Linked DNA regions of Homo sapiens: region 2 is linked to region 1. Evidence: fine-mapped expression QTL. A gene starts in region 1. The other region holds a variant in brackets. All regions are shown on one strand. Distances are from middle to middle. Region 1 holds the start of GRAMD1A (GRAM domain containing 1A). Region 2 overlaps LINC00904 (long intergenic non-protein coding RNA 904).

Evidence for each region. PIP is the estimated chance that this variant, and not a neighbour inherited with it, causes the effect. A credible set is the group of variants that fine-mapping cannot tell apart.
Region 2: its variant is the best candidate, but not a certain one, in a credible set for the expression of GRAMD1A in whole blood (INTERVAL, PIP 0.58).

The regions. Positions count from the first base shown.
Region 1 is chr19:34,996,916-35,005,153 of GRCh38, reverse strand. GRAMD1A (GRAM domain containing 1A) reads right to left here and starts at 4,831. Exons shown (of 20, transcript NM_020895.5): 1 at 4,668-4,831. The coding sequence starts at 4,675. RefSeq lists enhancers at 1-377, 378-923, 6,771-7,446 and silencers at 4,217-4,346, 4,617-4,996.
Region 2 is chr19:34,895,253-34,903,655 of GRCh38, reverse strand. LINC00904 (long intergenic non-protein coding RNA 904) reads left to right here. Exons shown (of 6, transcript NR_187844.1): 3 at 573-691; 4 at 4,651-4,818. Among named protein-coding and RNA genes, the nearest start is that of LINC00904, 5.7 kb to the left of the region's middle. The variant G/T (reference allele first, on the strand shown) is at 3,871.

The sequences.
Region 1 (8,238 bases):
CAGGAGGTGCTCCGTGAGCACATACTGTTGGGGATGGCCTGGGTGATCGGCCCTCCTTCCCCGCCCCCCATAGAACTTGGGTTCCAGCAGGTGCACGACTCCTTGGACCCTGCAGGTCTCCAGGGCAGCAGCCTGGAGTGTGGGCCCCACAGTCCAAGGACCTTCCAGTCAAGTGCCACCGCGTCCTTTCTGTGTGACCCTGAGCTAGTGTCTGAACCCTCCTGTGCCTCAGTTTCCTCTTGGGTATGATGGGAATTAGTGCCCACCTCCTAGGGTTGCACAGAGATGGAGGTGAGGTGAGATCCACAAAGCCCAGTACCTGGAGGGCACCTGGTTTAACTACGCTGCTTTCCCTCCCACAGGGACTGGCGGACTAAGATGGAGTGTACAGCGCGGCTGCCAGCCCAGTGCACCACTGCCCATGACGCTCTGCTGACCCTGACAGGGACCTCACAAGCACTACGCCTGATGTTAGGCGCCTCCATGACTGACCCTCAACTCCAGCCTTTCACCTCTAAATACCCTGCACCCGCCACAAGGAAGTGAGCAAAGCCCATACAAGCCCCTGCCTGCAAGGACCTGACGCTGAAACAGGGAAACATAGACCGTCAGTAAGAAAACAAGTGAGCAGGGATGGCGACCTCAGACACTGGTGAACGCCATAAAGCAATGCTGCTCAGTATGAGCCCCAGAGAGCAGCAGGCAGGACTTGGAAAGTGTTCAAAAGGCAGAGTCCAGGACCCACTCCCAACCTTCTGAATCAGAACTGGGGTGGGGCCAGAGATTCCGACGCACATTCAAGTTTGAGGACCACAGAGATAAGGGATGGGACAACTAGGGGGGCAGAGATGCTTTTTAAATTTTTTTTAGAGACACGGTCACACTCTGTCACCCAGGCTGCAGTACAGTGGCAAAATCATGGTTAACGGCAGCTCCGAACTCCTGGGCTCAAGGAATTCTCAATCCTCAGCCTCCCAGGTCACTCCAGGCCCGAACTCTTGGGCTCAAGCGATCCTCCAGCCTTAGCTTCCCTGATAGCTGGGACTACAGTCTCACACCACCATGCCTAGCTGATTTTTAAAGTTTTTTTGTAGTGATGGGGTCTTGCTATGTTGCCCAGGCTGGTCTCAAACTCCTGACCTCAAGTGATCCTCCCACCTTGGCCTCCCAAAGTGCTGGGATTACAGGCATGAGCCACTGTGCCCAACCAATTTCTTTAGTAACAGTCAGCAAAAGCCTTCCTGAACAAAGCCCACTTGTTCACCTGAGGACAAAGAACACATGTGGCAAAGGCTGGGAGAAGACTCCAGGTGGAGAACATCAAGCTCAGGGACAGGACTGAGCCTGGCAGGTCTGAGTGTGAGTGAGGTGGCCAGTGGGGCTGAGGGAGTAGCGGAGGTGCACAGGCCTGGTGACCCTAGTCAGGAGTTTGGCTTCACCCAGACAGCACTGGTGAGCAGGGAGAGACTCCTAAGCAGCAGGACCACATCCTCCCCTGCCTGCTTTTCTCAGCCCTCTAGCCTGAAACACAGACCTGCCCTACTTTCCCGCAGCCACAGATCTAGGGGCAGGGCCTGGGGGCCGGAATCCTGAAGAGAGGCTCAAGGCACACAGACAGGGCAGGGACCACGCCCCCAGTTTTTGCTCCAGGGCTGGGCAAAGAGGAAGTACTCAAGGGCGGACCCTGCGGCTGCCCAACCAGGATAGCTGAAGGCAGAGTGAAGGGAGGAGCCTGGGGGACTGTTATAGGGGCGAGGAGACTCGGAAGGGATGTTGTTTTGCTTCCGCAGACACCTGACCTCCAACTTCCTAGGCCCCAGTGGACCCAGAGCAGCCTCTGGTCAGAAAAGGGCGGATGCATCCACAGGTGTGCATAAAAGGGAAACTCAATGATTGTCACACAGTAGGTGTCAGGGGTAAACTGCATTTCCCTACAATTGCAAGGAGTCTCTTTCCTCTCTCTCTCTCTCATATGCACACACACACACACACACACACACACACACACACGCACAGAGCAACAGCATCATAGGTATGCTACAGAGAGCCACAGAGTAATTACACACACACACACACACACACACACACACACCTGCAGCATTGCTAGTCTGCTACAGTCACATGGCAATTTCCCAGAAAAGTTATCCAGACACATGCATGTGTGCACACAGACACAGAGCTGCAGAGGGTCACAGAAACATACAGCAACCCACAGAAAGTCCCGGATAAATTATATTCACACACATAGCCACGAGGAAGTCTCAGCAAAGAGCCAAAGACAGCCATACAGTGAAAGACCAGTCCCAAAAGACCCCAGGTGACACATACATAGTCCCAGGTAAATCAGGTCCCACGGTCAGCCAACACATCCCCACTGAGTTGTTCCCGTGCCCGCACTGGGCTCACCATCTGGCAGGGAAGACAGAGAAAAGGCTACTTCTAAAGTGGCAAGGGGCTGGGCGCAGTGGCTGATGCCTGTAATCCCAGCACTTTGGGAGGCCGAGGCGGGTGGATCACCTGAGGTTAGGAGTTTGAGACCAGCCTGGCCAACATGGTGAAACCCCATCTCTACTAAAAATACAAAAATTAGCCAGGTGTGGTGGCACGCACCTGTAATCCCAGCTACTAGGGAGGCTGAGGCAGAAGAATCGCTTGAACCCAGGAGGCAGAGGTTGCAGTGAGCCGAGATCGTGCCACTGCAGTCCAGCCTGGGCGACAGAGCGAGACTGCGTCTAAAAGAAAGAGAAAAAGGAAAAGAAAAAGTAAAGTGGCAAGGGGTGGAGGTGTCAGTGGCTGTAGCTGGTGGAGAGCCCTGATGCTCACAGTCAAGCAGGACTTGGGAATAATGCAGCCGAGCAGGGCGTGGATCTCGAGGACACAGTGGCCAGGTAGTGGAATAATGCGTGGCACATGCTATACTAACTGTAACAGGTGGACAACGTCAGTTATCATTATTGCCTCCAAAGTGCCCTGGGTACTCCCAGGGTCTTAGAAGGGAGGGTTCCAAGCCTACAGAGAGCCACAAGGGGTCTCACACTGTTCACACACACACAAAACCACAGAGGGTCTCAGCTGTACACAGAGAGGCCTAGGCACCACTCAATACTGTCACAAAGGAATACACAAGGGAATGTTCACACAAAGATGGAATCAAATTAAGTTACAGCCACACTCACAGAGCCCCAGACACACAACAATGTCACAAATGTAACTTACATTGGCACACAGAGCTAAATGAGAGTTTCAAGCCAGGCGCGATGGCTTAAGCCTGTAATCCCAGCACTTTGGGAGGCCGAGGTGGGTGGATCACCTGAGGTCAGGAGTTCGAGATCAGCCTGGCCAACATGGTGAAACCCCATCTCTACTAAAAATACAAAACTTAGCCAGGCGTGGTGGCACACGCCTGTAATCCCAGCTACTCAGGAGGCTGAGGCAGGAGAATTGCTTGAACCCAGCAGGAGGAGGTTGCAGTGGGCCGAGATCGTGCCACTGCACTCTAGCCTGGGCGACAGAGCCAGACTCTATTTCAAAAGAAAAAAAAAAAAAGAAGAGCGTTTCAGAGCTAAATTACAGGCATATGCAGGCACAGAGGGTCATGGTAGAACCCAGAGCCCCAGGCACACTTGTACACACACCACTAAGTCACAATGGGACGCACACTGGTAACTTACAGCAACGCTTGGAGCTACAGATAGAATTAATGGTAAAACACACACAGCCCAAGAAGGATCAGAGCTGCTACACACGGTAACTCCAGACACATGTACAAACACTCCAACGTCACACTCAGACACACAGGGGTAATTTATATTTGCACAGGGAGCTACAGATGGAATGAGACACAACACGCACACAACCAGCTGCTCACAGCCACAGATTTGGAGCCCCAGACACACACAGGTAACTTACAGTGACACACAGAGCCGCGGTCAGAATTAGTGGTTAAGTTACACGCAGGAACTCTATCAGAGGCCCAAAGCTGCTGCAGGCTAGCAGCCCCAGACACACGTACACACACTTGCAAGACAATTCACAGTCGGAAGCACATGCGCCCACCTGGACCGGAAGGGGAGTAAGAAGTCAATTCCGAGCACACAGGACCCCCCGCCCTCCATGACCTCAAGCACGCGGTCCTGGAGAGACGCAGGAAGCCCCCACCCCCGGCAGCCCCGAGACCCGCAACAGCCAAGGACGGTGGGAGGGGGCCCAGGCAGGAGGGGGCTGCCTACTCCCGGCGCGCCCAGGGCTCCGCGGCCTGTGGGCCTGGGCTGGTCCCGATCCTGTCTCCATCCCAGGCCGGAGCCCCAGTTCGGCCTCGCGCTCACCCCTGGCTTACCAGGCAGGGGGTTGCCAGGCCTGAGGGCCCTCCCCGCCAGATGAACCCGCGGGCCCCCAGCCAAACCCCGCAACCCAGTGCGTCGCGGGCCGGCAGTGGCGACCCAGACCCCGGGCCCTGCCCTGCGTCCGCGCCCCACTCCCCAGCTGCACCCCTCGCCCGGGGGCCCCCTGCCCCGCCCCCACCCCGATCGCCCCGGCCAGAGCCATGTGCAGAGGCCCCCGACCTCTGCAGCGGCCGCTCCGCCCCCTCCCCAAGCCCGCGGCGCCCCCTCCCTCCGGTGGCCTCCCCCGCGCGCCCGGTCCCTGAGCTCTAGTCGCCCGGTCCTTACTCGAACATGGATGCGGCGCGGTGGGCGCGCCCCGGGCGCAGGGCAGGGCAGGGCAGGGCAGGGCTGGGCTGCGCGGGGCTGGGCTGCGCTGGGCGTCCCCGCAGGGCACCGGCCTGGCCTTCCGCGGCCGCCGCCCCCACCCGACCCAACCGCCCGCACAAAAGGCCGGAGCCGCCGGAGGCCGCCGCGGCGTCAGCGACACCCCCTTCCTTCCCCCGCCCCGCCGCGTCACGGCGCCGCCCCCAGCCCGGGAGGGAAGGCGGGGAGGGGCCGCAGAGGCCTAGAAGGAGGGAGAAGCCGGGGAGAGAGGGACTGGACAGAGAAGGGAAAGCAGAGGGGCAGAGAGACAGAGAAGGAAACAAAGAGACTTTATTAAAACCAAACATCGTGGAGGCAGCTGCCTGCCCGCAGGTTGGGGAGCCCCCTCCCCTAGTACCTAGAAAAGGGTCCCTAGCAACTACTATGCCCCTGGCCAGAAGCTCCTGGACCTCCCAGGGAGGAACCTGAGAGCCGGGGCGAAGGTGGGGGAGGACTGGAGATGCTGGGAAACCGAGGTGTATGTATGGGGGAGGGGGCCTGAAGCTGGCGGGAAGGGGTGGGGCCGGTTGGCCGCCTCCTCCTTCCCTCTCCCAGTCTCTGAGCCCGGGTTCCTGGTCCCAGGAGGTCCGGTGCCTCCGTTTCTAGGGACTTCCCAGTTTTGGTCAGCCAGGCCAAGTACCAAGTCAGAATCCAGCCTCCCTGGCTCTTATCTGTGCTGAGACCTTGCGCTCATCACCCCAGTGCTGGGAGTCCCACTAACTCGGTGGTAAGGGCTTTTCCCGGGGACAGCGCAGGAACGGGCAAAATCAGTCCTTTTACGGAAGGAGAAGCCCGGCCTCTAAGATGGGAAGTGACTTGTTGGGGTCACCTGGTAGGTAGGCGGCAGAGTTGGATTCGATCCTGCTCTGACGCCATAACCTGCGTCCCCCCTCCCCCGCCCCGTCTGCAAGAGGTCAGAGTCAGGTGGTGTCCTGGACTCCTGGCCCAACCACACAGAAATGCGAGTCCCACCTCACAGCTCCGGGGCTGTGGCTCCCCAGCGCTCTCCAGGGTACGCTGTCCCCGCCTCTTTTGAAAAAACTCCCTTCCCAACCCTCTCCATCAACCCTTCCCCTCCTCCTGCAAAAGAAGCCCACCTGACTTCTCCATTTTGATGAATGGCAGGCCCAGAACTTCAGAGTCTTTTCTGACCCTCTCTTTTCCTTCACACCACATCCAATCCGTCACAAACTGTGGGCTCCACGTATAAAATCAATCGCTCCATTCTAAACTCTTCTTCCTCCGCTGCCCACGCCCTGGCCCAGCCTCCATCCTCTCCTGCCTGATCTCCCTGCTCCCATCCCTGCCCCTACTGTCTGTTCTCACCTGCAGCCAGAGAGAGCCTGGGACCACCTGAGTCAGTTAACTACCCTCCTGGCTCAGAGCCCTGCCCCAGCTGTACCTCACTCCAGGTAAAAGCAAAGTCCTCACCTTGGCACCCAAGGCCCCTGTCAGCTCTCTGACTTCAGCTCCTCATCTCCCCCTGGCTCACACCCCCCATCCAGCCTACCCGCTGTTCTTCTAACTCACCAGGCACCTTCCTGCCTCCTACCCCAAGACCTTTGCACTGGTTATTCCCTCTGCATGGACAGCACCCCCCCTATCGCCGTGCCCTACCTCTCATGCTAACCCCCACCTCTAAAACCCCCATCCACCATCTGACATTTGCTGCCTCCCACCGGCCAATGGAAGAGAGGCCCTCCTCCCACCACCTTCCTCTGTCCAACTGATCTCTTTAGATTTCTCTTTGGTCTGTTTCTTCTAGTGTAATGCTTTTAGTTTTTTAATTAAATAATATTTATTTCAGGTCAGGCGCGTTGGGTCACGCCTGTAATCCCAGCACTTTGGGAGGCCAAGGAGGGTGGATCACCTATCAGGAGTTCGAGACCAGCCTGGCCAACAGAGTGAAACCCCATCTCTATCAAAAATACAAAAAAATTAGCCAGGTGTAGTGGCTTGCACCTGTAATCCCAGCTACCCAGGAAGCTGAGGCAGGAGAATTGCTTGAACCCGGGAGGTGGAAGTTGCAGTGAGCCAGGATCGCACCACTGCGCTCCAGCCTGGACAACAGAGCAAGACTCCATCTCAAAAAAAAAAAAAAAAAAAAAAAGGAAGAAAATATAACAGTCCTCTATGTCCCCTGTACCTATATAGAATAGATGTGGACATTTTGCCATTTTGCTTCAGGTCCTTTTTTTAAAAGAAATAAATGATTACACTTACAACCAAAGGCCTGGCTCCCCATCCCTCCTTTCCCTTCCCGTGCCCCCCAAGGAGCCTTCTGCCTGCCATGCAGTTGGTGTGTTTCCTTCCTGCGCTTTTTTTTTTTTTTTTTTTTGAGACAAGGTCTTGCTCTGTCGCTCAGGCTGGAGTGGTGCAGTGGCTCGATCTTGGCTCACTGCAGCCTCCACCTCCTCGGTTCAAGCGATTCTCTTGCCCCAACTTCCTGAATAGCTGGGATTACAGGCATGCGCCACCATGCCTGGCTAATTTTTGTATTTTTAGTAGAGATGGGGTTTCACTGTGTTGGTCAGGATGGTCTTGAACTCCTGATCTCAGGTTAATCTGCCCGCCTCGGCCTCCCAAAGTGCTGGGATTACAGGCATGAGCCAGCACGCCTGGACCCTGTGTACTTTTCTGTCCTTTTTCTACATCAGGAGGCATCCACCAACACTATCACCTATTATCCAGTATCTTTTTAAAAAGATACACGATTAGGCTCCCTCTGTTTCATTTGCAACTTGCTGTCCCCCATTATCATTGTTTCTGCGATTTCTCCACATCCATGCACAAAGCTCTGCTTCCTAAACTTTAACGCTTATGGAGTGTCCCTTGTTGGAAGAAACCACAGTGGCTGCTTGTTCTATTCAGGGTCGGTAGAGTTCTTTCCTCTTCCCCCTATGGCCCTGAACCTCCCATTTCCTGTCTCCTTGTACCAGAGATAGTGTTTCTTTTCAGAAGTTTTGTTTAAACTTTCTTTTTTTCTTTGTTTTTCTTCTTCTTCTTTTTTTTTTTTTTTTGTTTTTTTGGCCTGTGATCTACAGCAGGAAATACCTTTCACATGGGCTTCCAGCACGCACTTAGAAATACACATAATGCCACAGAAGTTGTAAGAAACCACACTTACCCTCATTAGGCCTCACGCATGGTGTTATTTGCAATTCTATTTTATTTTGATTTGGATAAAGAAGTGCTGATTGCGGCCGGGTGCCTCATCTCACAATCCCAGCACTTTGGGAGGCCGAGGAGGGTGCATCACCTGAGCTCAGGAGTTCAAGACCAGCCTGGGCAACATGGTCAGACCTCGTCTCTACTAAAAATACAAAAAAAATAGACAGGTGTGGTGGTGCACATCTGTGGTCCCAGCTGCTGGGTGGAGGGGGGAGCAATGGAAGTTGCAGTGAGCCAAGATCATGCCACTGCACTTCAGCCTGGGTGACAGAGAGATGCTGTCTCAAAAAGAAAAAGACAAAAAACAAAAAACAAGGGCTGA
Region 2 (8,403 bases), 100 kb after region 1:
TTGGCCTCCCAAAGTGCTGGGATTATGAGTGTGAGCCACCACGCCCCACTCATAGCCTGTTTTTGTAAGGCCGGTTAGCTAAGAATGATGTTAACGTCTTTAAAAGGTCTTTAAAAACAACAGAAAATTCCAGAGAATATGTGACAGAGATCATACGTGACCTATAAAACCTATATTATTTACTCCCTGACCCTTTACAGAGAAAGTTTGCAGCTACTCTTTTGTAGTTTTCTGTGTATAGGTCTTACTCAGCTTTTGCTAATTTATCCCTAAGTATGTTATGGGATTTGCAAATGTTATTTTCAAATAGTTCATTGGTAGAACACAGAAAATGCATTAAATATATATGTATATATAGTACTTGTATACACACATACATATATACACACACACCTTATATTATTGGGATCTTGCTAAATTCATTGTTTATTTTTGGTAGATTTTTTTTTTTTGCAGATTCCTTTGGGTTTTCTACATGTATTTTCCATGCATCATGTATGAATAAAGTCAGTTTTACTTCTCTTTCCACCTGCATGCCTTTTATTTCTCTTTCTTACCTTCTATGTTTGCAGAGACCAACAATTGTCAGCACAGCAAAACTGGGCATTTCTTTTCTTACTGAGCTTTGCAGCTACCTACACAGTTGTGTGTGGCATCTCCTCCTGGGTGCAAGGACATGAGATGACATCAGGTGGGTGCAGGATCTATCCTGGCTTAAAAGCCTATGCCCCATGGACACCAATATCTCTGGTAATAATTTCATGGACAACTTTCAGGGTCCTGGTTGAAATGGATGACTTACCTTTCTTAAATGTCATCTTAAGTGGATGACTTAACTTTTTCCAGTCCACTATCATGGTATGCATTTTGTGTATATGTGTGTGTGTACATATAGATAGACATTTATATATATATATATGCATGTATATATATGCACATACTCACATATATGTGTATATATACATGCACATATATATCTACGTCTATCTATCTGTCTATTGGTATGTAGTAGGATACAGCAAAAATAATTGCTTTTTTATATGGCACCTCAGTAAATTCCTTTCTTATCTCTTGTAGTTTCTTTGTATATCGGGTAGTGTTTTCTACATATACAATTATGTTTTCTATGCATATTCTTTTTAATCTGTATGATTTTATTTTTCTTACCTTTTACAGTTACTGTGATCTCCAGTAAAATGTTTAATACAAGTGGAGACAATAGATAACCTTTTCCAACTCCTGATCGGGGGGTGGAAAGTGCTCAGTGTGCTATTAACTTAAGGCTTTTATAGATGTGCTTTATCATGTAAAGGCTGTTCCCTCCAATTCTTTCTATACTGAGAAATTTTTTCAAAGAGGTGTTAAATTTTTTCAACCCATGTCACAAATCTGCATATGTACTCCCCTAAACCTAAAATAAAAGTTGGAAAGAAAAATAAAACTATTACTTGAAACCCATGTTGTCATAGAAAAGATGTTTTTATAAATTAAGTAATGATTGCTTGTGAACTATTGTGTCTGGAGTCAAAGGTGTATTAAAATTAATCTCAGAACTCTTGCCATAACTACAAAAACAAATATGCCAGGCCACAAAAAAATACATGTTAAAAAGTTTTGTGCATCAAAAGACACTATCTAACAGAGTGAAAAGACAACCCAGGCAATTGGAAAAAATACTTGTAAATCATATATTTGAGAAGGGATTGATATCCAGAATTAAAATTTTTTTCAATTACTTTGTCCAAAGCTGAGATAATCATATGACTTTTTGTTTGTTCTCTTAATATGGTGAATTACATTTTAAATTTTGAGTGTTAGACCAACCTTACATATCTGAGACAAACCCTACTTGGTCATGCTAGGTCATTCTTTTCTATTTGGTTGAATTTAATTCCCAGAGATGTTGTGAAAGAATTTTATGTCAGCAGGGCGCGGTGGCTCATGCCTGTAATCCCAGCACTTTGGGAGGCTGAGGCGGGTGGATCACCTGAGGTCAGGAGTTTGAGACCAGCCTGACCAACGTGGTGAAACACTGTCTCTACTAAAAATACAAAAATTAACCGGGCGTGGTGGTGCATGCCTGTAGTTCCAGCTACTCGGGAGGCTGAGACAGGAGAATCGCTTGAACCTCCCAGGCAGAGGTTGCAGTGAGCCGAGATTGTGCCACTGCACTTCAGCCTGGGTGACAGAACGAGAAGAAAAAAAAAAAAGAATTTTATGTCTATGTTCATGAGGTTTATTAATCTATTGTGTCCCTTTCTTGCTAGGTTTTTATATTAGGGTAATGTCAGTTACACAGAATGAGTTAGGAAAAATTGCTTTCTTTATTCTCTGAAAGAGTATGTTTAATGCTGGTAAAACATCTTTCTTATATGTTTGATAGAATTAACCATTAAAATCATTCAGACCTGCAGTTTTCTTTTTGGAAAGATATTTTTAGTTCCTTTTTGTACTTTTAATAGTCTTTCAGATCTGCATTCATGCCTCATTTTTATTCATTATATTGGTAATTTTTGTTTTGTTTTTACACTTTATTGAGATATAGTTCACATATTCATATAATTTACTCATTCAAAGTGTATAATTCAGTGTTTTGTAGTATATTTATAGATATGTACAACCATTACCAGAGTCCATTTTAGAACCTTTTATCATCTCAAGAAAACCCTCTATTTTTCAGCTACGAGCCTATATCCTTCAACCCTTGGAAGCCACTGATCTGCTTTCTGTTTCTATGGATCCCCTGTTCTGGACATTTCATATAAATGGAACTGTATGATATATGGTCTTTTGTGTCTGGCTTTTTTCACTTGGCATAATGTTTTCAAGATTCATCCATGTTGTAGCATGGGTGTTTTTATGGCTAAATAATATGTGTTTTTATGACCAAATAACATTCTATTATATGGATGTACCGCTTTTGTTTACCCATTAATCACCTGGGCATTTGGATTGTTTCTACCTTTTAGCCATTATGAATAATGCTGCAAACACTCATATACAAGTTTTTGTGTGGGCATGGGTTGCTTTCATTTATCTTGGGTACATGCTTTGAAGTAGAATTACTAGGTAATACAGTAACTCTTTTTGATAGTTTGAGAAACTGACAGATTGTTTTCCAAAGTGGCTACACCGTTCAACATTCCCACCAACAGTGTTTGAGGTTCCAGGTTCCAATTTCCCCAGGTTTTTGCCAACACTTTTTGTTATCTGACTTTTTGATTCTAGCCATCCTAGTGGGTATGAAATGGCACATCATTGTGGTTTTGACTTGCATTTCTCTAATGACTAATGTTTCTAACCATCTTTTTGTTTGCAAATTGACCATTTTTATGTCTTCTTTGGAGAAATGTCTATTCGTATCCTTTGCTTATTTTTAAATAGGTTTTTATCTTTTATTATTGAGTTGTAAGAGTTATACATTAGGAGTACAAGCCTCTTACCACGTATATGATTTGCAAATATTTTTTCCCATTCTATGGGTTTTACTTTCAATTTCTTGATGCTATCTTTTGAAGCACAAAAGTTATTCATTTTGATGTGGCAAAACATTTATCTAGTTTATCTTTTGCTTGTTATTTGCTGCCACATCTAAGAAACCATTCCCAAAATCAATGTCATGAAGCTTTTTCTATATGTTTTCTTCTAAGAGTTTTATAGTTTTAACTCTTAATTTATGTAGTCAATTCACCTTGAGTTAATTTTTGTATATGGAGCAAGGCAATGGTCCAACTTTATTCTGTTGCATGTTACTATCCAGTTGCCCCAGCACTATTTGTTGAAAGATTACTTTTCCCCCATTGAATGGTCTTAGCACCTTTGTTAAAAAATCAGTTGACGAAAGATATATGGGTTTTGTACTTGTACTAG[G/T]TCCAAAATGGTAGAGTAGAAGCAAGCTGGCTTCACTCTCACCACAGAAACAGAAACAAATATCCAGCACAAAGATAATCACCAGCAATATCCCAGAACTCAAATGAGAGGGTCTCCTGGGCAGAAACCCCTAGTCAGCCTTCCCACCCTGCCAGGGTAGCCCCTTTCGGACCTCCCTCATTCAGGATGGGCAAAGCTCAAAATGTTCACTAGAGCAAAGACACACCTGGGCTTAAGGTGCCACCTAGCACCATAAAGGAGAGAGTGACCTAGTGAAGAAGATACTCAACAGATAAACTACAAAGAATCTCTAAGCAAACATATCTAAGAAAAACAAAAACAAACCAGACAGAGAAAGCTGGAATAACTAACACATCCTTCAATGCAAAGACATAGATGTAGATCCATAAGAAACAACAGCAGACAGGGAACCATGACCTCCCCAAACGGACAAAGTAAGGAGCCAGTGACCAATCCTAGCAAGATGACAATAGGCAAACTCTATGATCAGGAATTCAAAACAGCAATTTTAAGGCAACACAGTGATTTCCAAGATAATACCGAAAAGCAATTCAGAAATTTATCAGAGAAATGTAACAAAATGATTGAAATAATTAAAAAATCAAACAAGATTTATGGGTTTATTTCATGCAATTGTAGACAATTCTATTTTATTGATCTATATGTCTATCCTTGTGCCAATACCACACAGTCTTGATTACTATTGCATTGCAATAACTCTTGTTTTCTTTTGTTTTGTTTTTGTTGTTTTTGAGACAGGGTCTTGCTGTGTCATCCAGGCTGGAGTGCAGTGATATGAGCATGGCTCACTGCAGCCTCGACCTCCCAGCTTCAAGCAATGCTCCCACCTTGGCCTCCCAAAGCGCTGGGATTACAGGCATGAGCCACCATGCCTGGCCATTGCCATTGCAGTAAGTTTTGAAATCAGTAAGTGTGAGTTCTCCTACTTTGTTTTTTCTCTTTCTTTCTTTCTTTCTTTCTTTCTTTCTTTCTTTCTTTCTTTCTTTCTTTCTTTTCTCTTTCTTTCTTTCCTTCTCCTTCCTTCCTTCCTTCTTTCCTTCCTTCCTTCCTTCCTTCCTTCCTTCTTTCTTTCTTTCTTGCTTTCTTTCTTCTTCTTTTTTATTTTTTATTTTTATTTGAGATGGAGTCTCACTCTGTCACCAGGCTGGAGTGCAGTGGCATGATCTTGGCTCACTGCAACCTCCGACTCCCTGGTTCAGGCAATTCTCCTGCCTCAGTCTCTCGAGTAGCTGGGATTATAGGCATGTGCCACCACGCCTGCCTAATTTTTATATTTTTAATAGAGACGGGGTTTCACCATGTTAGCCAGGATGGTCTCGATCTCTTGATCTTGTGATCCGCCCGCCTTGGCCTCCCAAAGTGCTGGGATTACAGGCACGAGCCACCATACCTGGCCTAGTTTTTGTATTTTTAGTAGAGACGGGATTTCACCATGTTGGTCAGGCTGGTCTCGAACTCCTTACCTCAGGTGATCTGCCCGCCTTGGCCTCCCAAAGTGCTAGAATTACAGGCGTGAGCCACTGCGCCCGGCTGTTTTTCTTTTTCAAAATGTTTGGCTACTTAGGATTCCTTGCAATTCCATATGAATTTTACAATCACCTTATCACTTTCTACAAAGTGGTCAGCTGGGATTCTGCTAGAGACTGCTTTGAATCTGTAGATCAGTTTGGGGAATATTGTCATCTTAAACAATATCAAGCCTTCTTATTCGTGAATGTGCATTCTTTTTCCTATTCTGTAGATATTTTTGACTCTCTTTAAACAATGTTTTGTAGTTTTCAGAGTATATGTTGAAAATGTTTTTGTTAAATTTATTCGTAAATGTTTTACTCTTTATGATGTTACTGTAAATGAAATTGTTTACTTAATTTTAGTTTTGGATGATTCATTGCAAGTGTATAGAAATACAATTGATTTTTGTATATTAATTTATATCTTATAATACTGCTGAACTAGTTTATTAGTTCTAATAGATTTTTCATTGGATTCTTTTGGACATTCCCCACAAAATAACTCTAATCTGCAAATTTCTCTAGCTAAAGACTCAAGTACAATAATAAATAAAAGTGATGAGAGTAGACATTATAATCTTGTTTTTTTGTTTTGTTTTGTTTGTTTGTTTTTTTGAGACAGAGTCTCACTTTGTCACCCAGGCTGGAATGCAGTGGCACGATTACAGCTTACCACAGCCTTGACCTCCTGGGTTCAGGTGATCCTCCCACCTCAGCCTCCCAAGTAGTTGGGACTACAGGTGCCCACCACCATGCCTGGCTAATTTTTTTGTAATTTTTGTAGAGACAGGGTTTTGCCATGTTACCTAGGCTGGTCTTGAACTCCTGGGCTCAAGCGATCTGGCTGCCTCAACCTCCCAAAGTGGTAGGATTACAGACATGAGCCACTATGCCCAGCCTATAATCTTGTTTGTAAACTTAGAGGGAAAGCATCCAAATTTAATCATTATGATGTTTGCCGTGGGTTTTTTGTACTTGCTCTTATCAGGTTGAGGAAGTTCATTTTTATACTACTTTGTTGAGTTTTTAAAAAATTATTATTATGGCCAGGCATGGTGGCTCACACCTGCAATCCTAGCATTTTGGAAGGCCAAGGCCAGCAGATTGCTTGAGTTCAGCAGTTTGAGAACAGCCTGGGCAACATGGCAAAACCCCATCTCTATATTAAAAAATAAAAATAATTTAAAAAATTATTATTATGAAAAGATGTTGAATTTTGTCATATGTTTCTTCTGCATGTGTTGAAATGACCATATGATTTGTTTTTTGTTCTACTGATATTATGTATTACAATAGTTTATTTTTGGATGTTAAACCAACCTTGCATTGCTAGCATACATTCTTTTTATATATTGCTGGGTTTTGTTTACTAGTATTCTGCTGAGAGTTTTGCATCCATATTCATAAGAATCATATTGGCCTGTACTTTACTCTTCTTATGATGTCTTTGTCTTGTTTTGGTATCAAGGTAATACTGGCTTCATAAAATGAGTTAACTGTCCATAAAATGAACAGTTCACAAAGAATTGGTATTAATTCTTTGTTAAATGTTTAGCAAAATTCAGCAGTAGAGCCATCTGGACCTGGAATTTTTTTTTTTTTTTCAGATGGAGTCTTGCTCTGTTGCCCAGGCCGGAGTGCAGTGCAGTGGAGTGATCTTGGATCACTGCAGCCTCCACATCCTGGGTTCAAGCAATTCTCCTGCCTCAGCCTCCTGAGTAGCTGGGACTACAGGCATGCACCACCACACCTGGCTAATTTTTTTGTTTTTGGATTTTTAGTAGAGATGGGTTTCACCATGCTGGCCAGGTTGGTCTTGAACTCCTGACCTCAAGTGATCTGGGTGGCTTGGCCTCCCACAGTGCTGGGATTACAGGGGTGAACCACTCCTCCTGGCCTGGACCTGGAATTTTTTGTGGGTGGTTTTTTGATTATGAATTAATTACTCCTCACTTGTTGTATGCCTATTAGATTATCCTATTTCTTCTCAAGTTAGCTTTCATAGTTTCTGTGATTCTAGGGATTTGTTCATTTCACCTAAATTATATTATTTCTAGGTATAAAATTGTTCATAGTATTCCTTTATAGTTCTTTTAATTTCTATAATGTTGATAGTAATGTTTCCTCTTTCATTTCTGATTTTGGTAATTTGAATCTTTTCTCCTTTTATCTTGGTCAGTATAGCTAAATGTTTGCCAATTTTTTATCGAATGGACTGATATTTTATTATTGAGTTGTAGCAGTCCTTTGTTAGACACATATTTTGCAAATATTTTTTCTTGTTATAGTTTACCTTTTCATTTTTTGAATTCTGCCTTTTTTGAACAGTATTTTTTTTTTTTTTTTTTTTTGAGATGGAGCCTCACTCTGTCGCCCAGGCTAGGGTGCAGTGGCACGATCTCCACTCACTGCAACCTCCCCCTCCTAGGTTCAAGCGATTCTCCTGCCTCAGCCTCCTGAGTAGCTGGGACTACAGGCATACACCACCATGCCCAGCTAATTTTTTTGTACTTTTAGTAGAGACAGGATTTCACCATGTTGGCCAGGATGGTCTCGATCTTTTGACCTTGTGATCTGCCCGCCTCGGCCTCCCAAAGTGCTGGGATTACAGGGGTGAGCCGTGCCCAGCCTGTTTTGTTTTGAGACAGAGTCTTGCCCTGTCTCCCAGGCTGGAGTGCAATGGCACAATCTCGGCTCACTGCAACCTCTGCCTCCTCCCGGGTTCAAACGATTCTCCTGCCTCAGCCTCCCGAGTAGCTGGGATTACAGGCGCCTGCCACCACACCCAGCTAATTTTTGTATTTTTAGTAGAGACAGTTTCACCATGTTGGCCAGGATGGTCTCAAACTCCTGACCCCATCGTCTGCCCACCTCGGCCTTCCAAAGTGCTGGAATTACAGGCGTGAGCTACCACGCCCAGGCTGAGTTCTCAGGTTTCTTATGGATTCTTTAGAATTCTCTATATGTACGATCATGTCAT